5 separate regions of the Homo sapiens genome follow, and all the other regions are reported to be linked to region 4. Evidence: microRNA targets listed by miRTarBase, many of them from high-throughput screens and not tested one by one. Region 4 holds a microRNA gene; each other region holds the end of a gene's coding sequence.
Evidence for each region. The annotated mature microRNA hsa-miR-548e-5p reads CAAAAGCAAUCGCGGUUUUUGC and lies in region 4 at 2,961-2,982, shown strand. An mRNA with a match to its seed (bases 2 to 7 or 8) in the 3' UTR can be bound and repressed. Matches are read on the target gene's strand: a 7mer-m8 pairs with bases 2 to 8, a 7mer-A1 pairs with bases 2 to 7 and ends in A, and an 8mer does both.

Region 1 (5,317 bases), not on the chromosome of region 4:
CATGCTCAAGTATGATGCATTTTGATTGTGTTGATACCTACCTTCTTAGGTGAATGGCTCCATCATTTCAAAATAGAGGTCTGCCAGGAGCCCTTTACAAGCAATGCAGTATGTGCCTGAATGCACAAATGTTTATTGAGCCTGAGGTGTTTACAAAGGGTGAATAGATAGGACAGTAGTCTACAAAAATAGAGAAGCAACTTGAGAATTTTTGAAAGGGCTTTTAGAGTACTCTTTAAAGTTCAGGTAGGAGCGTGCTTTATTCCTGTTCCTAAATTAGCTAGGAACCTGATTTTTCTTATTTACTGAAACTTGTCTGTAGTGCATACCCTTAGGAGAGAATGGTTTAGCAAGTTATTCTTTTGTGCCTTACTTTGTCATCTACAAAATAACTGTTAAAGGGATTTTTATCCTTAAACAATTAGAGTTCTGAGCATTAGTCAGAAAATTTTTTTGATAAAATGTACCTATGGTAAAGATGAAAGATAGAGTATTGTATTTATATAAAAAGCATATATAGATTCATAATAAATTGAATATTATTTCTCTATTTCTGCATGTAGTAAAAGCATTCCTTTCCTTTTCTTTTCAGGTTATTACAATAGGTGTTATCCTTTGCCAGTCTGTTTCCATGGTTATTCTCTACAGACTCTTTCTGTCTCACAGTCTATACTGGGAAGTTTCTTCACTTTCTTCAGTAACACTACCACTGACCATATCATCTGGACACAAAAGTCGCCCTCATTTCTGATACTTGATTTTTGTTGAGAGGAAAAGTGAATTGGTTAAAAGAGTGCAATAAGGATCCAAATACAGTGACTTTTTTTTCATACATTTAGTATGAAAACTTGAACAGCGAAAGCAGAGCATGTTATTTATATAACTGCATTTAAGCAGTACCAAGACTGAAAAAAAAGGTAATAAATGAAATGTTTTGAAATATACTTAAACAACAAACTTTGAAGAAAGTGTTGTTATAAAATTATTGAAGCGATTTCTATGTGGAAATAAATGTGAAAAATAACTATGATATTTTGGTAAAATATTCACCACTTATAATGCCTCATCTTAATAGCTAACTCAGGTTTAATAGTCTTATAAAAAGTAATCAGTTAAATGATTACTTGCTTATAAATATCTAAACTAGTCCAGTTATGAAATCAGTGTAATACATTGATTTTTAAAACTGCTGCTTTTTATGCTTTAAGGAAAATGTATTTCATATTTGAGTTTAAAGGAATTGAAATTACTTCAGGAAATGAATATAAAATAGGTTCACAGTTAAATGAATAAGCTTTTGTTTATTTGTGGGTGGAGTTATTCTCCAATTTTTTCTGCCATTTTTGGCTCTAGTTCAGGTTTTAGCTTGATTAGCAAAGGTTTTTGACAAACAGTTTATGAAAAAATAAAACTTAAATACATTACACGGGTTGTAAGGACAAAGGATTTTAAAATCTGAGCACTTAGGTGAAGGGACAAGCAGGTTTATGTGTTTAAACAGAAAGAAGGGAAAAGGTACTATGTGATATGGTACTGAAATTTTGATCCCAATAGAATTCATTTCTCTTACGTTGAATCCCCAATCATAATTAAGCCGTATACACAGATTAAATTAACAGAAGCATTTCACATAAATGTTGGTTTCAGTCATCAACTACCCATGAATTCCTGCCCAAGGATACTTAATCAGGATTAAATTTTCTATGAATAATTGAAAAACAAAACACTCACTGGATTTGTTATAATCCGTGTTGGCACTGGATTCTAAGTAGTTGCCATCTTGAATCCTTTGTAATAAAGCCATACTTTTGTGTGTGTGTGTGATGCCCCAGTATTGAGTATGCTAGCTAAAAAATATCAAGTGCCTGATTAAAGAATTGCTAAATGGTTGTCAATACTCGCTGTATAAAATGAGTATTCCCATTAATAGTCACTGATTGGAAATTATTCTGTTGCTGTTTGTCAAGCTGTTCAGGCCTTTTCCTTTTTACTTCTGGCTTATTTTAAAAATATTTTTTATCTATTTACTGTGTGTTTAAGCAAGCAACAGTGCACTGATCTGGTAGTTAAATTTTTTAATTAAATAGTTAAAATAATGTAGTGCAACTTAAAAATATCTATGGCTTTGTTTTTGTTTTTCTTTTGTACCTAGTCTCATTGGAAATGACTAGTATTCTGCCTCATTTTCAGGGCAGAATATGTGTTTGTGACCCAAAATGACAAAGTTACCAAGTTCAACCTGCTCATTAAATCATCTCTCTATTAGTTCTTTGTAAATCACTTAGTACATTAGAGCTACAGGTTAAGACTAGAAAGTCTGAGTTATGTTTTAGGTATACATGATCGTCTGAGTGGTCATAACCTTTTCTTTTATCATGTCTCGCTAATAACCCCAGCTATTGTCTGTTGTGTTCAGCTGAGATGCAAAAAAGAAATTAAGCAAAAAAGAAAAAGATGAAGACTTTTCATGAATTTTGTGAACTTGCCAAAAGGGGAAGGGAAAAATCTTTGTGTTACTTCACTCAAAGAACATAAGTAACTGCAATTAACATATATGAAATTTATTACTCTGCTTGCATTTATGAAACTAACCAGTTTTTTAAACTTTAATTCTTAAATTTATGGTTGGAAATGCTGATAATTTATTTTGTTATTTAAGAGCTGTTGTTAAGTGGAGGAAAGTAGTTGTTAATAAATGTATAAAACTGTTCTTGACTAGTAATCAGGGACAAAATTTATAGTTCATAAGTCATGACACAGTATTCGCTCTTTTTCTGAATGTTTACATAGAGATTCATCACTGCAGATTACAGAAAGTTAAGTGTATACTACAAACTCTAATTAAAGATAAAAATCTTTTCTACTTTTCTTTGTCAGATAATGCTTTTTTATGTGTTTTTACATTTTTTGAAAGAAGATAAATGGTTCATCCAGAGCTTTATTAAGAAGCATTTCTTTTCTTCCCTTAAAAAATAGATGCTTATTTTTATTGACATGTGTATAATAAGATGGGTGCCTACTGTGATGCATTTTACCAGGCATTTTACCTTCATTATTACTCATCTCTATTGTGATAACCAGGCTCCCATTTAACTGAGTATAAGAGAGAATAAATGATTTCTCTAAGGTCATCAAACTATTTAGTTTTTCCACTTTACCTTCATGATTTAAGGAACATGTATTAGCTGTGTTTTAGTGAGAATGAATTGCTATCCATCATAATTTTTGCTGTTGATTTGAACATTAAAACTGGAATTGTGCTAAAATCAGAACATGCGCTTGAATATCTGTAAGACCTCAGCACACTTCAGTATTTGAACCTGGCTTTTAACCAGACAGTATTACTAGCAGGAGAGTTAATCTAGGCAGAAGAGCTTGCTTTAGGGTAATTATTTATTATCTCCAGTAAAGTCACATCTGATGAACATAGGAGATACACAAATCTGAGATCATCTCTAAAATAATGAGACTAGAACCTATCTATCAACATGAACATGGGCTCCTTCAGCATGTTTCTTCTAGGAGACTGCACGTTCTTTGGAATTTGGAAATTTGGAATTATCTGTGAAACATTTTCTTAAATAGCTTCTGTGGTATCAAATCATTGAGGTTGTTTTTTGTTTGTTTTGAGAATTGATATGATTGTTAGAAGTAGCCAGATACGAAGAGGTAATACTGTTTTTTATTCCAACATGTATTTGTGAATTGAGACTAAAATAATGAGATTGGTTTTCCTCTGTGATCTGAAAGTAGTGTGGTAGAAGCACCGTAGCTTGATTTCTTGCAATAGCTCTCTAAGTAATATTACCATGTCCACACTTGGGCAGCCTTCTGCACAGCTCCAGGGGCATCATATGTGTTGTGCTGTAGGAGTGCCATGAAGCCTGGAGGTGAGGAAAGAAGTGATCCTGCCCACTAGGGCCATTCTCCACAGTGTAGCCAAAACAATCTCTTAAAAATGGAAATCATCTGGATGATGAGCATACAGAAATTCTTTGTGCTAATCTTGTAATTTTTTTGTAAGTTTGAAATTATTTCAAAAAGTTTAAAAATCATATAAATCAGATCAAACTACTACTTCCCTGACAAAAACCCTCCATGTGCCTCTCATTGCACTTAGGAAAAGAAGTCCTCACTCATTACTATGTTCTGCAAGGCCCATATGATCTGGTTATCTCTTAATTTGTACCACTCTCTCACACACATATCCCAGCCTCATTGTCCTTCATCAAAAAAAGATCTAGCTTATATCACACCCTCAGATACTTGGCACTAGCCATCTTCTCTGCCTGGGACATTCTCTTCCAAATCTTAGCATGGTTGGAAGGCTGAATCCTCATCCTTCAGGTTCTCAGCTGAGATGTCTTTTAGAGAACTCACCATCTGTGGTGGATTTATATGGTGCAGTTTAGTCAACCTGGAGATAGGTTCTGCAGAATTCTCTTCCATGCATAATTTCAGGACAATGTAGGCCATAAGAAATGTTTGATACAAGATATAGAAGGCAGAAGTAAAGTAGCAGCCAGATCTGCATTCTTTTTGTAAGAGGAAGGGCCAGACAAGGCACAAGGCACAAGGCACTGTTGCAGCTTATCCACATTATTGCTTATCTGTTGGCTTCTCTTGGCCTGTGGGACAACAGCCAGGCCCACAGGAACACCAGTTCCTGCCGGAATGGCTCCTTCAGCTTCTCTGGCTCCTGGGCCAGGTGTGCGTTTTACTCTGACAAAGGGTGCCAGCTTCTGCTGGACAACTCCATCATTCACACTGGAGGATTAGAGGCAGGGAGAGACCTGTATGGCTTCCAGTCCATCCTCACAAGTTCCACTCAGTTCCCACAGGTTCTACTCATCCTAGCAAGTTCCTTGCTTCCCCCATTTCCCATGTCTTCCCTTTCCAACTGCCAGACACAAAAGAAACCGCCTCCTATAATCCCTATAATAAGCCCCTTATTTTGAATATTAAGATATGTGTATGTGTATTAGATCCTAGTGGTTCTTTTCTGATCAGACCCTGATTAACCATACCATCCTACCTAATGCTATTCCCCCATCCTAGTTCTATCATATTATCCCTTTTTTTGTTTGTTGTACTTAGCTGGTTTATCTTTGTCATCTCTCAAATTAGAATATAAATTTTAAGTGAGTTTGTCTCTATTGTTCATTGCTGTATGCCTAATACTAGGACACTCCCTGGTGCATACTAGATGCTCAAAAATATTTTTGAGTGAATGAAGGCAATGCTGAAAAAGTTCCAAATCTGTACTTAACAGTGTAGTATTAATTATGTAATAGAAGTACCCGTAGTGACTTCAATA
Region 2 (5,317 bases), not on the chromosome of region 4:
TTCCTTTGCATTCCCAGCAGCAATCGAGGACACCTTATAATATGGTTCCAGTTGGGGGGATCCATGTGGTACCTGCTGGCCTCACATACTCCACGTTTGTGCCCCTTCAGGCTGGACCAGTGCAGCTCACGATCCCTGCTGTCAGTGTCGTTCACAGAACTTTGGGTACTCATAGGAATACGGTCACAGAAGTGTCTGGCACTACAAACCCTGCTGGAGTGGCTGAATTAAGCAGTGTTGTGCCATGTATTCCTATCGGCCAAATCCGCGTGCCAGGCCTTCAGAACCTAAGTACCCCAGGCTTGCAGTCACTCCCCTCGTTAAGCATGGAAACCGTCAATATTGTAGGCCTAGCCAATACAAATATGGCCCCACAAGTCCATCCACCAGGACTGGCTCTGAATGCTGTCGGACTGCAGGTTCTGACTGCAAACCCTTCATCACAAAGCAGCCCCGCCCCTCAGGCACACATTCCAGGTCTCCAGATCTTGAACATAGCATTGCCCACCTTAATCCCCTCAGTCAGTCAAGTAGCCGTTGATGCACAGGGAGCTCCAGAAATGCCAGCTTCCCAAAGCAAAGCATGCGAGACACAACCCAAGCAGACTTCTGTAGCCAGCGCAAACCAGGTCAGCAGGACCGAGTCTCCTCAGGGGTTACCTACAGTCCAGCGGGAAAATGCAAAAAAAGTTCTGAATCCACCTGCCCCTGCAGGTGACCATGCAAGGCTTGATGGCCTGAGTAAAATGGACACAGAGAAGGCTGCCTCGGCAAATCACGTGAAGCCCAAGCCTGAACTCACTTCCATACAGGGCCAACCAGCGTCCACGTCACAACCTCTGCTGAAGGCACATTCTGAAGTTTTTACAAAGCCCTCAGGCCAGCAGACTCTCTCTCCAGACAGACAGGTTCCCAGGCCCACAGCACTACCGCGGAGGCAGCCCACTGTGCACTTCAGCGACGTGAGCAGCGATGATGACGAGGACAGGCTTGTGATAGCAACCTGATGGATTTTATTTTTTATTTGCTTTTTTTTTATATAACACTTAAAGGTTTCTTTGAAAACCCTCCTTTCCTTAAAGCACATTTTTCTGACATAAACTCATGACTAATCTTTGTGCAATCATGAACTTTTGACCAATAATTGTTGTTTTGTGTCAGCTCCAGCCATTTTTGTACATGTTGTATAGACAATTGTGCCTTTTAGGAGCTTTATGTTTAGAAACTGTACAGATTGTTGAATATCTATATACATAAAAATATATTATATATGTATATGAAAACCAGGTAGTTATTTGTGTTTAGTAAGGAAAACCTGTCAAATAAATCAAATGATTAAATTATATGTTCCACTGTTGAATATAAATTTTATGGCTATGGGGCAGAGTTTCTGTGTATAAATTAGTATGTAAACTCCATATTTATTGTATTCATATTAGTCTTTGAAAATGGGTCTGTCCTCCTTGTGTAAGACAGTAACTTTACACTTCAGACAGATTTTCTGTGTTATGAAATGTTTCAGTAAAATATTGTTTACTGACTTTACCATTGCTTCAGTTGTGCCTTCTTTATATCATCCAGTGATCAGTGATCTGCATTTGGAAAATAGCCCTGGGTTCCATTCTTTCCACATTCCCCTCAACCCTTCATTTTTTTTATAAACAGAGACTTTACTCGCCTTTCTACCATGTGAAACTGTAACTGAAATCCATACAACTGATTGACCTATTTTTCTTATTTGTGAGAAGTCATTTCATAGTTATTATTAGAAGACTAAATATATAAGAATACTTTCTGTATATACATAAAGCATATAGCCTAAAATGGGCAACGTTCCTAAATGAGGGTATGGAAATTTCTGGGAAACATGAGTTAAACCCCATTGTCCTTAGAATTTGGCTCAGATGAGACCCGTATAACCTCATTTCCAGGCTCCAACACCAGATCCATTCGTGGGCTATGGGCTCTTCTTTCCCTTGATGCTGTTAAACTCACAGAGCTCTGTCCAGCACTGAACTACAGAGTGTCCAAGATTACCGAAGAGCCAAATTCAGACTTCTAAATTACTTAAGTGACTCTCTTTAGACATTACTATTTCCTGTCCTGGAAGGTTGAACCATCCTTATTCAGGAAAATATGGCGGCATGGGGAGCCCCCAATTACCAGTGCAGTGATTTGCATTATTAATGATTATAGATGCTAGGTTTATGAGAAAAGTATTTTAATGTTGGAATTTAAATACTTAGCACATCATTAAGTCAATGTATTCACATTTTTAAAGGCTTGCTTAACAAAGATTGCAGAGACATGAAATAAGTAAGACAACAGCATGGTTTGCGAGGTGAGAGGTAGGGGACAGCCTATCTACTAAGGGGTTTGGAGACCTGCTGCTAGCCAACCCAGCTTCACGTCTGTGACTTTGCAAAGACCTGGCATTTCAACTTGCGTATCCTTATCTCAATTAGGATCTCCAAGGTGTGCTGCAGTCCCAGCACGCACTGGTGGATCTGTGATGCTTTAAATGAATGCTTCAATTTACATTTACATATTTCCATAGATTAAGTAACAAAATTCTCTCAAAAACAATAAAACTACATTTTTATATTCTGAGATAGCTTTGGAAAGAATTCTGGAAATATCTGCTCTAGGGATTGCGTTGCCCTATCAATAATAGCTGTTGAAAATGAGGTCTGTTTTCTGTCCAGTTTCTCAAAATTAATGTTTTAACTGTGTCATGAACTTTTTATTGCCTAAAATTTTAAAGCAGTATAATAAGCATATTCTTAACTCCATAATTAAGTACAGATGACTTCTCTAAATTCAAAAATAATGCTTGGAGTTTTTAGCATTGAGGTTTTTTAGTTTCTATAGAATTTTCTTAATTTAAAAAATTCCTATACTTAAAGACAAGTGTTACGATGTGAGTGGATGTTCCCTTGAAATTTTCATAATGCTGTAATGTACCTTACTCTTATTTTGTACTTTTCAAGATTCTTATTTTGGGCTTTTCAAAATTCAATGCATCGTGCAAATACCTTTACTATTGGCAACTTTCAAGCTTTATTGTAGCCTTTCAAGTATTTTGCTAGTATTTGAAATATGCAGCTCTATAAAAAATATTACCAAAGTCTAAGCCATTATATTTTGAAATTACATGCACAAAATAGACAAGGGAACAATAATTTTGTGCTATTTCTCCGAAGTCGTCTTTTCCCAAGGAGCAGTGTCCACTTGATACTCCCAAATATAAACGACTTCCAAATAATGTAATTCGGAGAACTAATGGGACTACATTTGACTTTTATTCTGTTGCACTGTCGTGTGTGGAGACCCAGGCCTGTAGAGAACTAGGGTGCAATGACATAGTAAGATAATTTATTGACAAAACAGGTGAAAGTTTTAATGTGTAACAATTTCAATACCTTGTGTGAATCCACTGCAATGCCATCATCAGAAGTACTGGAAAAAACAGCTGAAGAACCACAGGTCGTTTTTCTAGTTAAAGATTATTATATCTGGCTTATGAAAATGTATTATAACATAAATCGAGGGCGTTCCAATAACTTATTTTCATTCCCTAAACTTTAAGCCAAAATGATAATTATTTCTTTCGAAATGATAATTAACCGATGGTATTGAATGTACAAATTTTGTTTCTCAGTTATATTTTTCATAATATAGACCTGATTTTCCTTTCACAGAAACAGTATAAGTAACACGTTTCTTACTAATTAATCCCTGGCCTGAATTTTAAATGATAGCAGTTAATAAGGATTATGGAAAATAATCATTATTTTTGTTGGAAGACTGTCAAGATAGTTAATAGATCTTGATTCATGCTCAGTTCAAATTATAACATCAGGGTTCTTTTTGACTTTTCTGTTTTTCATCTTACATTTTGCAGTCAACTTCAAATAATACCAGAAAGATGATTTTCATTAATTTTGTTTCAAAACCATCTATAAATTCTAAATACAGCATGTATATCACCTTAAGAATCTTCTCTCAAAGTGACTTCCCATGACTTAAAATTCTAAATTTCCTACTTAATATTCAAAATATGTATTTTGTAATATATATTTGTATATATATAATATATGTATATATTACATGCATGTTATATATACGTTATATTACATGTATATATACATGTTATATTACATGTATATATACATGTTATATATACATATACATATATATGTTATATATACATATATACATATATGTGTATAATATATATACATATATACATATATGCATAATATATATACATATATACATGTGTATATGTGCGTGTATAATATATACATGTACATGTGTAGATGTGCGTATATAATATATACACATGTACATGTATAGATGTGCGTATATAATATGTACACATGTACATGTATAGATGTGCGTATATAATATATACACATGTACATGTATAGATGTGCGTATATAATATATACACATGTACATGTATATCTGCGTATATTATATATACATGTACATGTATATATGTATATATTATATATACATGTACATGTATATATGTATATATTATATATACATGTACATGTATATATGTATATATTATATATACATATACATATGTGTATATATACATATATATGTGTATATATACATATATACACATACACGTATATATGTATATTATATATACATATATACGTGTATATCTATATTATATATACAGATATACGTGTATATCTATATTATATATAGATATACGTGTATATATACATATATACATATATACATATATTATATACATATATATTATATATACAGATATACGTGTATATATACATATATACATATATTATATACATATATACATATATACATATATTATATACATATATATTATATAATTATATATACATGTATATGTATATATTATATACATATACATGTATATATGTATATATATAATATTTTATATAATATATTTTAGTGGCAATAACTCCCTGCTCTCATTACCAAGTGGGGAAAAAAAGGAGAAAAGGTTTAAAGCAAGAATAGCAAAATGTTTTTCTATACAAATTATATACAGACTGTTCACAACTTACTATGGTTCAATTTAATGATTTTTTCAACTTTACACTGATGTGAAAATGATAAGCATTCAGTAGAAACCATACTCTGAATTTTGATATCTTTCTGTGCTAGCAATATAGGGTTTGATCTCTTATGATGCTGGGCAGCAGCAGGAGCCAAAGCTCCCAGCCAGCTACGTGATTGTAACCACAAACACACTACAGTGCACTGTATTCAATACATTATACGAGATATTCTAGACTTTATTTAT
Region 3 (5,105 bases), not on the chromosome of region 4:
TCCAAATGTCATTGTTCCTCAGAATTCCAAACGTGCTTGGTTCTTCACATTGCAGTTTACACATTGGGAACACTGCCTATAATCTAATGAGTTTCAAATTCACATTTCTGTTGCAATTTTTTCCTGAGCTCCAGATGGAATAACTGATTGCTTGCTACAAAATTCCATCGTTTTTCTACCACTATTTCAAATTCCACTGGTCTAAACCCAAGCCCATCATCTCACTCAAAACCTTCCTCCATATCTCATTAAGTCACATCATCATCCACCCAGAATCCAGAAATCTAAGGATCTTCTCAAATCCTTCCTGCTCATCATCACCTTCATCGAATTGCTGAATATTCTACCCTATATACCTTCCTCGGGTATATGTATATGCACCCTATATACATTTCTCTTCCTCAGCTCCACTGACTAGTTGGTCAAGTTGAGTCCTTTATCATCTCTTTCCCAAGTTCCTTTTATTGGATTTCTAATAAGTTTCACTTTTCTCTGTCTCTCTTTTTATTGGATTTCTAATAAGTTCCACCTTCTGTCTCATCAATTCATCTTCTACCTACTACCAGAACTTTATATCAAAAAAATTTAAATTTGGTCATATCACTGCCATGCTTGAAAGTTTTTCATGAATTTCCATTGCCTCCAAAATTCAAGCAAATGCATTAGGCTGATGTCAAATGTCCTTCTCTGATGCCAATGTATCTTTCAGTCACATTTCTCACCTCTGCAACCTGAAGCCCCAATGACTAATGAGTTTCATTTTAAAGCAGGTCATGTTTGTATAAACCCCCAATATCTGTGCGTGTGATTTTTCCCTCTGCTGAAAATGCCTAGCCCCAAAGCCAAAACCCCACTCTGTTCACTTGGCAAGTCTAATCATTTTCTAAAGCCCAATTCAAAAACAAACTCTGTAAAAAAGTCATAGACACTTAACATCAGAAATTTCAGTTTTTCATATTCAGGGATTTCATAATCCTTTGCAGAAATCTTCATAACAACTTTTATCCCCACATTGTATTAAATTACTTGTATCTGAGTTGTCTGTTTTCTCCACTAGACTGCAATTCACAAACCATATTTTAGTTATCTTTTACGATCTCAGCAGATACCCTGGTACCCAGTCCTTAAGCCATAGGGCATAATGTTTCTAGCATTTAGTAATGACTCTGGAGAGCCAAATTTTTAAATTTTCTTTGTAACTTACCAGCCATGTGCTTTGGACAGGTTGTTTAATCTTTAAGCTTCAAAGGTTTTCTCACACATAAAAAGAGATAATAAAGATGCATTCAACAAATATTTATTAATTTCTACTATTTGCCATGCACTGTTCTAAGTGCTGGGGATATATTACTGGAAAAATATACCAAAATATATGACTTTATGGAGTTTATGTGTGAATAGATACCTAACTAATGGGTTTGTTGGCAGATGCAAAAAAGATAATTATGCATAAATTACTTGCCCACTATGAACTATGTAGAAATTTTAGGTCTTATTTCTTTCTGACATAGAAAAATCTAGAGAAGAACAGTGTGGCTCAAACATTATACAGCGCCTTAGTGATCATTCTAACACTCCTGTTCAGTCTCAATTGTAATTCTTATTTTCTCTTTTTTTCTCAAGAGGATTTATGGAATTTGATGATAATGAAGGAAAACATTCATCAAAGTGACATCCTCAGGTGATTTTTCACTTAAAATTTACAACTGAAATAACAGTGTATTGGACAAAGGAAAAAGAGTCTGTCCAGTTTTATTTAATAATTTTGGTTACCCATGTCTACCTACAAGCAGAAAAAGTACATTTTAAAAAAATAAATGAATATATTTTTTTCATGTACAAGTTTCTAATAATAAAATTTTCTTAAGAGAGGAGGTAGAGCTGTGAGATGAAGTGAATAAGGATGGCAAGTTTGGAGACCTGATTCCTGTCACAAATCTGCTAGGAACTTGCTTTGTACAAGTTCAGCCTGTGAAATGAGGGGCTAGCACGCACTAGCAATCTAAGGACCCACGTAATCATGCAGTTAGTTACTCATAAGAAGAGTGAAATTTGCTGAACCTAATTCAGAGAGAAAGGATAACAAACTTTCTATCTCACGCAGTTAGATATATGGGCAAACAATATAGTTTGAGTGCTCAGAAATACTTGCTTTTTCCCTACTCGGGTCTCTCCTGAAAATGCATATTGAAATACGAAAACAAAAGTGTTAGATCTGGAAAAGTAGTAATATTAGTAGCTGGTATGAACTGTGTTCTTACTCTGTTTTAGGCATTAAGCTAAGTGATTAATGACTAAGGGCTTGTAGTATTTAATTCATAATCACTATGCAAAATAGATATTATTATTCTTAAATTTTATAAATAAGGAAATGAAGGTTCAGGGAGGTTTGCTAATGTGGCTATATTGATAAAGGATGAAGACACAATTTGAATTTAAGCAGCCTGATTCCAAGGCCTGTGCTGTATCTCTAAGCCATAGTGCTACTGGAAACAGAGCAGAATAGTATAGGAGAAGGCAGTGGAGAATAATGATTAAGCTAAGTAATCTAAGTCATACCTCAAGATGTTCATAGAAATACAACACCACCCCTTTGCTTAGTTGAGTTACTTTATCTGCATATTCAGGAAGCATGGCCTTTCCCAACTTCTGTTTGTGATCTGGTCTGGAAATGCTCCTTTTCCCCATTGGCTCCATTTCATAACCTGGGTGTGATTAATGTAAGTTCAGAAAGCTACTATCATATTCCCCCGGAACTTAGCCCACCCTTTCCCATGTGCTTCTAAGGATGAGAATCAGGCTTGGGCATTGAAATCAAAACATGCCCAACCCCGACACTCCTGACTCTTACCCTAAGGCCAATTAAGCTTTTAAACTCAGTCACTTATGTTTGTATGTCTTCATTCCCATCTTCTCAGAGAACAGCCTGCCTCTTCTTGCAGGTGTCCTAATACTTTGCCTTCATTCCGGCTTCTGGTACACACCTATAATTTTTGGTACCCACACCCCAAATCCTTGGAGTACATCCTACAGGTCTGGTCTATGATGTAGTCTAATAGGCAAGGCCACATGGAGGAGCAGAAAGAACAGAAGACATAGACAAGATGTAAATTCAACTTCTAAATCAGCCACTTAATGGTTATGTAACCGTGGTCAGGCCACTTTACCTGCCTGAGCCCCACTTTTCTCCTTATGAATTTTTAAAACATAGGGAATCTTAATGCCATAAATTTTTTAACTGCACATGAAAAACTTGGAATTGATGCATGAACCAACCTAAGATGCCCTGATGAGCAGGGAGGAATGGCTCAATCTAGGGTTGTAATATAAAAAACATTAAACTAGGGAGAAGGAAGCAACTAAGGGAGAGACTAATTTTTGTATTCTTAGTAGAGACAGGGTTTCACCATGCTGCCCAGGCTGGTGTTGAACTCCTGGCCTCAAGTGATCTAAGTGATCACTTGGATGCCCACCTCAGCCTCCTAAACTGTTCCGATTATAGGCATGAGACATGGCATGCAGCCAGAATTTCCTAAATTAAGATAGGTAGTTGGATAGATAGATCTTATGTTTCTCTTATTAACATTGATTTTTTTTTTTTTGAGACAGAGTCTCACTCTGTCACCCAGGTTGGAGTGCAGTGGTGCCATCTCGGCTCACTGCAACCTCTGCCTCCTGGGTTCAAGTGATTCTCCTGACTCAGCCTCCCGAGTAGCTGGGACTACAGGTGTGCATCACCACACCCGGCTAATTTTTGTATTTTCCTTTAGTAGAAATGAGGTTTCACCATGTTGGCCATGATGGTCTTGAACTCCTGACAGTGATTCACCCCCCTTCGGCCTCCCAAAATGCTGGAATTACAGGTGTGAGCCACCATTCCCGGCCGATCCCTCCCTTTTTTTTTTTTTTACACATTTCTTTAATGCTTCTTTAATCCATACCTACTATATCAATCAGCCAATGCTACCAAAATGAATAACTAGCTGGCTGTTGAGAAGTTTATGGACTCAGCAATCACATAGCTCTGTGTATCTCATAACTGTGGAAGGAAATGATAAAGTTATGCATAAAGGGGCCTTGGGAATGCCTTGGAAAAGATAAGAAGGAATATCTGGAGGAGGGGATAAGCATTATGAATGCTCTACAAATAAGGTGAACTCTGAGAGAAGAGATTCTACACACAACCTGATATGATGAGTAGAGAGAGGTACAGTATTTGGAAAAATATCCAATAACCGAATACCTGGTTCATCTGAGAACCTCTCAGCCTCTACTGAACAACATTGGCATGATTTTTACTGGCTTTAATATTTTCAATAAAATTAAAATTTTAACTCCATTTGTCCTGCATTGTTTAAAACCATATGAATTCAAGTCATCTTTTTTTGTGTCTTAAGTCATTTGATATTTTAAGTATAAATTTTCTTTCCTGCTTAAAAACAAATTTGGACAAACCTCACTAGATTACTAAAATTATCAAAAGAGGTAATGGATAGAAAGTCACTTTATGAATTCTTAATTTTTATACAAGTGTTTTGGATTAAGGCAAAATGTACTATAGGACACACTAGACTTTTATGCTTAGACTTGCTCAGTCAGAACTTCCTAGGGAGGGATCTAGGAATAAGTAAGTCAGACAGGAAATTCCAGTGCACCTGATAAGCAAAATTGCCCGTGGCCACAATGTCACTTGATTACGTTTTCATGAAGTCTTATGGAAAATTTTTCTTTTAGAAATCAGGCAAAAAAAAAAAAAATATGCCTTCCCTAAAGTCAGATTCCTCTTTTCTGCTTATAAGATTTATGTGATGGCTGGGCATAGTGCCTCATGCCATTACAGGTGCCTACCAAATCCCAGCGCTTTGGGAGGCCGAGCGGGCAGATCACCTGAGGTCGGGAGGTGGAAACCAGCCTGACCAACATGGAGAAACACTGTCTCTACTAAAAATACAAAATTAGCCGGGCATGGTGGCACATGCCAGTAATCCCAGCTACTCATGAGGCTGAGGCAGGAGAATCGCTTGAACCAGGGAGGCAGAGGTTGTGGTAAACCAAGATCAAGCCACTGCACTCCAGCCAGGGCAACAAGAGCGAAACTGTGGCTC
Region 4 (4,000 bases):
AGAGAGAGAATATTGAGTTACATGTATATATATTCTGTCATAGTTTGAATTGCAAAATGGGTGGCTTTTTCTATTTCTGCTTATTTCTGAGTTGCATGTTATTATACTGGGTGTGGTCCTTTCTTTGCTAAAGTATTCCATACTGAAAAATAAAACCATTGCTATTTAGTTTTTTAAACATGGCCAATATACTTTAAAGTTTGTTTATCTGTAATACTAAGGGGATAAGCAAGGAGATGACTTGAAGTTCAAAATATGTTTTATAGACTTAGCCAAATTGCAAAAAATTGAATTGAGCTGTGATATGTTTTGTGTTTATGTAGTCTTATTTTTCCGATTGCCCATAAATTTATACCAGTAAAGTGAATTTTAAAAATTCTGATGCCTTTTTAGTTATTAATGTGGTATAAGGATACTATAATGTTTATTTAGAAAAATTACATCTCTACTTAATTTACATAATTTCAGTCATGAATATTTAGTATTTTAATTTTTTAATTTTTATTTTTTTTGAGACAGAGTTTCACTCTGCCTCTCAGGCTGGAGTGCAGTGGCGTGATCTTTGCTCACTGCAGCCTCCGCCTCCTGGGTTCATGCGATTCTCCTGCTTCAGCCTCCTGAGTAGCTGGGACTACAGGCGTCCACCACCACGCCTGGCTAATTTTTTTCTATTTTTAATAGAGATGAGGTTTCACTATGTTGGCCAGGCTGGTCTTGAACTCCTGACCTCAGGTGATCTGCCTGCCTCTGCCTCCCAAATTGCTGGGATTACAGGCCTTAGCCACCGTGCTTGGTCCAGTCATGAATATTTTAGAGGCATGATTACTAAATCATTTGAGGCCTGTGATGATGTTATCTTTCTCCAGAAGAGTTTTTGTCTGCCTCTGTTGGGTACCTAGTAGAGAGGGGATCACTTCAATCAATTCGTGTTCAAGGCTTGAGATGTGTGTGGTCCCCCAAGTGATTAAAAGTTTTGCTGCAGGCTAACTGGATGACTATTTTATTTCCAGTTCACCCTTACTGGTAGGGTGCAGCTCTAGAGGGTCCCAGTTGAGGTTGATGACTAGAGTCCCCACCCTTGGCAGGCCCTAGATTTTGACTCTTGCTGGAAAAATAACTTAGCCTTTTAGCTGCATCTTCCAGTTAGGGCTGTGTTCTTAGGACAGAATTATCTCCATTGTTTTGCTTGTATCTGGGTTCCCAGCTTGTTTCTGTTCTGGTGCTTAGTCATTACGTTGTTAACTCTCTGATTTTGGTTTTGGAAGATGTTTTTATTTATTTATTTTTTTATTGGGAGAATTTATTTGAATTACCTACCATTACTTGAAACAAAGCAGTTGTTAGGGAATTTCTTAGCAGGGTTGAGTAGATTGTCTTAGGTTATACAGGACAATTATTTACAGAAAAGCAAGCTGAGACATGGATGTAATAAATAGCCGTTAGAATCTATGTTTCCCTGATTTTTGGCCCATGACACTATCGTATTACTATTTGTAGTGGAAAGAGATTACATATTCTAGTTAACTGGTTTATGGTTTAGATGTCCCTCTGAAAGGCAAGATTGTCTCCAACACATAATGAATTATTCTATTAATATCCAAAATAAATATTCTACTAAATGTCCTGTATAAAATAAGAGAATCAGATTTCTGGTTCAAGATAATAAGGACCAAGCACAATTATTTCATGCTTTTTTTTCTCTTTAAAATCTATTGAAATGGCCAAGATGAACAAGGAGATGTGACCTTAGGAGAAAAAAAACATAGGATATTTAAACTGCATGTTTAAAACATGATGAGGCTGATACAAAAAGGGAACAAAGAATAAAATACAATTCTTAGAGATATGTTTGCCAAATCAAATTTAATGGAAAATTCCATATAACCAAATGAACACAGCCAGAGACCAAAGTGATGATCTCTAGGATAAATTAAAAGTCCCCTAGAATCTAGATCAAAAAGAAATGTATACAAAAGAAGTGAAAAGTTAAAAAGTCATGGCAGATAGGACTAGACGTTCCAGAAGGCCAAATAGTGGTGATAGTTATAAAATATAATTTTATAATGTTTCCCTGAACTTGATAAAAACCCGGATAATAAGACCAAAATTGCTTACCAAGAAGAAATAAATTAAAAAGTTACATTCTGGTGGTAGTTTTAAATATTAGATGTATTTGTTTTGAATAAATAATAAATTCACATGTAATGTTATACAACCTATCTTTACCTGGTTTTTGGTTTCAGGGTAATGCTGGCTACGTATGTTCAATTTTTGGAATAGTTTGTATGAAATTGCATTATTTCTTCCTTTAATATTTGATAAAATTCACCAGTGAAGCCATCCAGGACAGGACTTTTCTTTATGGGAATTTGTTTTAAAGCAATTTCAATTACTTTAATAAATATAGGGCTATTCAGGTTATCACTTTCTTCTTCAGCAAACTTGGTCATATGGGTCTTTCAAGGAATATATTTGTTTTATTTCAATTATCACATTTAAAAGCATTAAGTTGTTCATAACATTCTTATTATTTTAATATCTGTAGAATCTATAGTAATGCCACCTCTCTAATTCCTGATATCAAGAATTTGTATGTTTTCTCTTTTTCTTAATCATTCTGGTTAGAAGTATATCAATTGTGTTGATCCTCTCTTAGTTTTATTGATTTTCCCTATTGTTTCTCTGGTTTTTATTTCATTGATTTCCATTTTGAACTTTATTTCACCAGCTTACTTTGAGTTTTATTTGTTCTTTTTCTAGTTTCTTATGGTGGCAGCTTGAGGTCATTAATTTGAGACCTTTCTATTATTCTCATAAAGACAGTTAGCACTGTAAATTTCCCCTTAAGTACTGCTTCAGCAGCATCCCACAAATTCTGATATGTTGTATTTTCCTTTTAAAAGTTTTTTCTAATTTACCCTTTTGTTTCTTCTGTGATCTATGGCTTTATTAGGTTGGTACAAAAGCAATCGCGGTTTTTGCTATTACTTTTAAAGGCAAAAACTGAGACTACTTTTGCACCAACCTGATAGAAGAATGTTATTTTGTTCCCAAAAGCTTGACAATTTTCCATGATATATTATTGACTTCTAATTTACCTCCATTGTGGTCAAGAACATTCCTGATAGGACTTGAATTCTTTCATCATGGTAAAAGTATTCCATGTGCAGTTTAATGTGTATTCTACTTTTGTTGGGTGGAGTGATCCATAAATATGAATCATGGTACAGATGAGGCAATCAATGAGTTTATTCTACTTTCTGCCGTTTCTGGAGGAGTCTCTTTTTCTTCTTATTTTTGTTAACTGCATTGTCAGCATAGGTAACATACCTTGTTGTACTAATTCCCATTTTTGTTTTAGTCTTAATGTTTATCAGCAGTCCTGTTGCCATAGTTGCCTCAGTCATTTCTTGGTTGGCTGAAGTCAATCTGGTTGGTAGTCATTTGCTCAAAAATGGTTCATGGGAGCAGTATTCTCCTATAGTTCTTGCATGTGTGTAGCTTTTATAATTTAAGAACAATTTAGATAGATACAAAATAATTGGATCAAACTGCCTTTCCTTGAGGATCTCAGTAGAACTTGTTAACAGGTAGTTCTACCTTCTTCTGGAATTGAATGTACAAAAATAAGAGGCCAGTCCATTTTCTTTTTTCCCCATGATAAGTGACTTAGTCATTTTGCTTGGCCAGCCAAAGTATTATTTCTAGATTTCTGAAATTTTAAGAACTATATTTTATTTATCAGTGTTTATTTTTCAGGATCATATTTTCCTAGTATACTCTGGGCCAATTCAACATATAGGTTTAAGTTTTATTTCAGTACAGTGTTCTTCAGTATATTCAGTATATATTCAGGGTATATATGCTTTCTGTTTGCCATATATATTCAGTGTATATTCAGTATAGTGTTCAGTATAGTAAATATGTCACACAGTGACATATTTAGTTTGTGTTGTATGTTTTTACATTAAAATATGTATCTGTAAGTTTGGTTAGTATG
Region 5 (5,182 bases), not on the chromosome of region 4:
AGCATCAAAAGAAGCAGAAAAATTATTTTTGTTATAACACACCATCTATTAAAAGACCCATTATGCAAAAGGTAGGTAAACATTGTGAAATTTTAAGTGTGTACTTGCTTTTCAATTAAATTTCTTTTTTTTTTTTTGAGATGGAGTCCTGCTCTGTTGCCCAGGCTGGAGTGCAGTGGTGTGATCTCAGCTTACTGCAGCCTCCACCTCCTGGGTTCAAGTAATTCTCCTGCCTCAGCCTCTCAAGTAGTTGGGATTACAGGCACGCGCCACCAAGCCTGGCTAATTTTTGTATTTTTATTAGAGATGGGGTTTCACCGTGTTGGCCAGGCTTATCTTGAACTCCTGGCCTCAGGTGAGCTTCAATTAAACTTTTAAATATTACCAATATTACTCACAACTCAAAGAATTTTTAAAATAAAATTAAGAAAAAAAAAACCTGAGTTTCAGTAACAGTTTAAACTCTACAGAGTATTTTTAAATAGTATTGCTTCTGGCTGTTAAAAACCGTATATTAATTCTTCAATACATTTTTTTACTTAGATTCAAGGTACATCATGCAGTTCAACAAGCTATTGAACAAAATCTGGATTCCATTATATTGGTTTTCCTTGAGGAGATTCCAGATTATAAACTGAACCATGCACTCTGTTTGCGAAGAGGAATGTTTAAATCTCACTGCATCTTGAACTGGCCAGTTCAGAAAGAACGGATAGGTGCCTTTCGTCATAAATTGCAAGTAGCACTTGGATCCAAAAACTCTGTACATTAAATTTATTTAAATATTCAATTAGCAAAGGAGAAACTTTCTCAATTTAAAAAGTTCTATGGCAAATTTAAGTTTTCCATAAAGGTGTTATAATTTGTTTATTCATATTTGTAAATGATTATATTCTATCACAATTACATCTCTTCTAGGAAAATGTGTCTCCTTATTTCAGGCCTATTTTTGACAATTGACTTAATTTTACCCAAAATAAAACATATAAGCACGTAAGAACATTGTCTACTGATTAATATACAATCAGCCACTGAGCCTATGACAGCTTAAGGAGTTTGAAAACATTCCTCATTTTAAGAAAAGTTAGAGGTATATGAGGGTTTGTGATGATCTTTTTGTATTTTGGATGCACTTAGAATGAAAGATAATTGTTTCAATGGGTATAATGCTATTTCCTTTGTAAAAGAGTAAAATATATACCCATATTTTTAACAAGTTTAATTACAGTATTTTTTCAATGGAAAAACTTTGTATTTTAGTAAGTACTTGTCTCAGTGTTGACTTTGTTAAATGTTAAATATTTTTTAATATACATACCCAAGGGCAGAAAACATTTGCAATTCATTTTTATTAGTTAATGAGATGATTATTTGAATGAATATTGACTTGTATTTTCCTGAGATTATGAGTTTCTGCTGTGGGAGGGTGGAAACAATTCTCTTACTAAAAGTATTGTAGGCAGGCTTGCTTTCTGAAGGCTAATCACTATTTGGCTTTGTGGAAACAGAACTTTCCTCCCATGGTCACAGACTCAGGAGATGGCGTTGGCAAAATCACTTGGTCCCACTGGGATTCTTTGACTCCTGATCTTGAAAATTATGATAATAAATGCATCTTAGATATTCCTATGTAATTAGTGATGATGATCGCTGTATAATATATTCAAAGGAATGTATTATTTTACCATAAAATAATGTGCTACGCATAAGGTAGTCCTTATCTAGAAAGACTATTTTTATTTTTGTTTTTTTGTTTGTTTGTTTTTTATTTGTTTGTTTTTGAGACAGAGTCTGGCTCTGTCGCCCAGGCTGGAGTTCAGTGGTCCAACCTCGGCCCACCGCAACCTCCACCTCTGAGTTCAAGCTATTCTCCTGCCTCAGCCACCCGAGTAGCTGGGATTACAGGCACATGCCACCATGCCTGGCTAATTTTTGTATTTTTAGTAGAGATGGGGTTTCACCATGTTGGCCAGGCTGGTCTTGAACTCCTGACCTCAAGTGATCCTCTCGCCTTGGCCTCCCAAAGTGCTAGGATTACAGGTGTGAGCCACCGCGCCCCGCCTTTTTATTTTGTTTTACAATACAACAAAAAATTTTTAGTTTTACAATAAAAGAGAATCTGATTATTGGAAATAGACCTGAATAGCTTTTTGAAATATTTATAGTTCTAGTATTTAAAGAGAAACCTGAAATTATAAAGCTGAGTTAATTTCTATACCTGAAATGTTCATTTGTCTGCTGAATTCAGGGAGCATTTGAGATGTCACATTTTGGAACTTTGATTTAAATAGTTCAGTATTCCCAAGGCTGAGTTCCATGACCCTGGAATGAGAAATATCCACTGTACCTCTGGTTCTGAAGAGTCTATAGTCGGCCAACACTGTGAATGTGTGGAGGACTAATTGTCACTTTCATGTTATTTGCCACCCTGACAGCTGAGACACTGCTTTTCAGCATTTTAGTTAAGATTTGCTTTTTAACTGTGCAATAATCATTTTATTTTGGCATTATAAAATAAAAATCACAACTTCTGCTTTTCTTATATGCTTTGTGTGTTATCACACAAATATTCTCAAATATTCATAAGATATTTTAAATAAATCATTGTGAATTAGTCAATATATCAAGTTGCTTAATATGTCATATATCAATGCTATTTAATATATAATATCTATATTTAATATATTGATATGTTACTGGTGGAGAGTGTCCAGGTTCTTGGTGCTTTGAACAAGGAATTGGACAAAATGCACAAAGAATGAGGCGACAAAAGCAGAGGTTTATTGAAAACGAAAGCACACCCCGCAGGGTGGGAGCGGCCCGAGCAAGCAGCTCAAAAGCCGGGTTACAGGATTTTCTGGGGTTTAAATACTCTCTAGAGGTTTCCATTGGTTACTTGGTTTATGCCCTATGTAAATGAAGAGGCTAAAGTGAAATTACAAAGTTATTTACTTGTTGTGCACCCTACGCAAATGAATAGCTGTCACAGCTGAGGTAGAGTTACAGTGATTTACTTGGTGGTAGAATGTTGGGATTTTTCCATTTGATTGAGTTCTAGGAAGCCTTTAGTTTCCCTGCCTGCAGACCCCATTCTCCTGCCTCAGATATATCAATGACATATTCAATACATCATTAAGTTGCTTAATATTTAAGAGGTTAAGATGCACAGGTAATGACCTCTAAATGAATGCCAATAAAAATAGTAAAAGGTGTAAACTCTGACTCCTATCTGACCTAGGTAGGAAGTAACATCCAGAACTTCTGCAGGCTGTCCTGTGTAATTGTTCTCCGGAGGAACCCTTGTCCCTGGGGTTTGAGAGAAGGGGATCGAGGAAAAGGATGTTTGTCTGAGCTCTTGTTTGATTTGCCCAAGTGACTTGACTTGTTTGAATCCTCTCAGGGTGCCATCATGTAATCTGTCCACTCCAACTTCTTCCTGTTTTTCACATTGCAAAACAAAACCCAACTGAATCGACACTGAGTTTAAAATAAATCTTGGTATTTAGGTTGTACCTAAAAATGATAACTTTTAGACTGTAATCAGAGGTAGATGCTATCAATTTGTTAGTGAGGAGGGGAGGAGTTTTCGATGCCACTTAGTTTACAATGTCTAATTGTTCAAATATACATCTAGGTTGTAAAGGAGACTCAACGGTAAGTTATAGTGACCATTGAAAAATGTAAAGGGGCTTCAAATCAAGAACTTAGAAGGAATTTCTTGCAATCTATTGAGACACAAAGCAGATGAGTGGTTGTCTGGGCCTAGGAACAGGAATGGGGAGTGGCTGCAAATAGGTGGAAGAGACCTTTTTTGGGTGATGAAAGTGCTCTATAATTGGGTTATGGTAATAATTGTACAACTATGTAAATTTACTGAAAGTCATTGAGTTGGACACTTAAAACAGGTGAATTTTATGATATGTAAATTATATATTCACAAAGCCATTAAAAATTGTATTTTTTGAGCAGCTACAGGTGCCTAGCCCTGTGTTAACTACTATGGTGAACAGTAGGATGGGATTTAGAGGTGTGGGCAATACAAGCTGGGTGGAAAGGGATTTCCAAAGATGGACCTGGGCAGGGAGGACTCCACAGAGGAGACCCAGCCCCTTCCAAGGTGGGTGAGATTTCAATGAGTGGAGAAGAAGATGGCAGAATGAACAGCAAGAGAGAAGTTCATGAGGGAGACATGAACTTGGTGTCGGGAGATAGTGGGGTGCCGAAGGGGATGGAACCAGGCTGCAGAGAGCATGGCAGAGATGTTTAGATGCAATGTTTTGAAATTGTGACTTTATGGGTTTAAACTGCCAAACCCAGACATCATGATGAAATTCCCTCCTGGGATCTATGCCTTAGATTTAGGTGTCAGCCAGTTAAACAGAGGAACATAGACTATAACTTCACAGTCCAAAGCCAGGCTGGCTCTCACATAACAAAAGGGGCTTTAAGCACTTTTTTCCCCTATAAACATATACATCTGTGTTAAAATAACAAAGGACAATCACTCATTAGTTACTAATTACACTAGGTGACATATTAGCCACTCTTGGCTCTTGCAACTCTCTAGCCTTGCTCCACTGTCCTGTTTATGGGAGAAAACAGTTGTGCCATGTGGCTATTTTCACAAACCATTCTTTATTCTTTGTGTGCATTGGGCAAGAGTCATCAGACTTTTCAATGGTGGAACTCTTCCACTTTTGTTTGAGGACTTCTGGGTAGACAGGGTTGGCTTATTTAGCTTCCTTTTCTCTTAGGTCAGTTCCCCAGGAAACAGGTTTTGGGATGGAGGTTTGCATGAAGGAAGTTTCAGGGGTGCTCTGATTTATAAGTGAGTGAAATAAGCTGGATCGGGAAGAGAGAGAATAATTAACTCTGATGCAATTCACAATTGCAGCTGAGTTCTTAGCCAGCCCCATGGGGAGCTCTGGAGCTGGAATGACCCTAGAGAATTGGGAGAAATCTAGGCAAAGGGGCTGGACCCCTCTCCATGCCCTCACATCAACCAGTCACAGACACAGGCAGCCCCAGGGAGGAAGTGTGACCTTAAGTAAAATGTTTTGCCAAAAGAAATTCAAGGGCAGGTGCAGTGGCTCAAACCTGTAATCCCAGCACTTTGGGAGGTGGAGGCAGGCAGATCACCTGGGGTTGGGAGTTAGAGACCAGCCTCACCAACATGGAGAAA

Region 1: the mRNA of GPR180 is a reported target of hsa-miR-548e-5p. Seed matches in the 3' UTR shown: 7mer-m8 at 1,191-1,197, 7mer-m8 at 2,882-2,888 and 7mer-A1 at 3,324-3,330.
Region 2: the mRNA of HIVEP1 is a reported target of hsa-miR-548e-5p. Seed matches in the 3' UTR shown: 7mer-m8 at 1,026-1,032.
Region 3: miRTarBase lists C5orf46 as a target of hsa-miR-548e-5p. The part of its 3' UTR that is shown has no 7-base or 8-base seed match.
Region 5: the mRNA of TLR3 is a reported target of hsa-miR-548e-5p. Seed matches in the 3' UTR shown: 7mer-m8 at 2,445-2,451, 7mer-m8 at 2,471-2,477 and 7mer-m8 at 2,532-2,538.

What each region holds. Positions count from the first base shown.
Region 1 is chr13:94,626,421-94,631,737 of GRCh38, forward strand. It overlaps GPR180 (G protein-coupled receptor 180), which reads left to right. Exons shown (of 9, transcript NM_180989.6): 9 at 593-5,317. The coding sequence ends at 751. Among named protein-coding and RNA genes, the nearest start is that of GPR180, 27 kb to the left of the region's middle.
Region 2 is chr6:12,163,455-12,168,771 of GRCh38, forward strand. HIVEP1 (HIVEP zinc finger 1) reads left to right here. Exons shown (of 9, transcript NM_002114.4): 9 at 1-1,545. The coding sequence ends at 1,007. Among named protein-coding and RNA genes, the nearest start is that of EDN1, 120 kb to the right of the region's middle. RefSeq lists enhancers at 1-12, 732-1,232.
Region 3 is chr5:147,893,560-147,898,664 of GRCh38, reverse strand. C5orf46 (chromosome 5 open reading frame 46) reads left to right here. Exons shown (of 4, transcript NM_206966.3): 3 at 1,624-1,681. The coding sequence ends at 1,672. Among named protein-coding and RNA genes, the nearest start is that of C5orf46, 10 kb to the left of the region's middle.
Region 4 is chr10:110,985,980-110,989,979 of GRCh38, forward strand. It overlaps MIR548E (microRNA 548e), which reads left to right and starts at 2,947; the gene lies at 2,947-3,034. All of the region lies in intron 3 of SHOC2 (SHOC2 leucine rich repeat scaffold protein), which reads left to right.
Region 5 is chr4:186,084,102-186,089,283 of GRCh38, forward strand. TLR3 (toll like receptor 3) reads left to right here. Exons shown (of 5, transcript NM_003265.3): 4 at 1-71; 5 at 544-3,972. The coding sequence ends at 772. Among named protein-coding and RNA genes, the nearest start is that of TLR3, 18 kb to the left of the region's middle.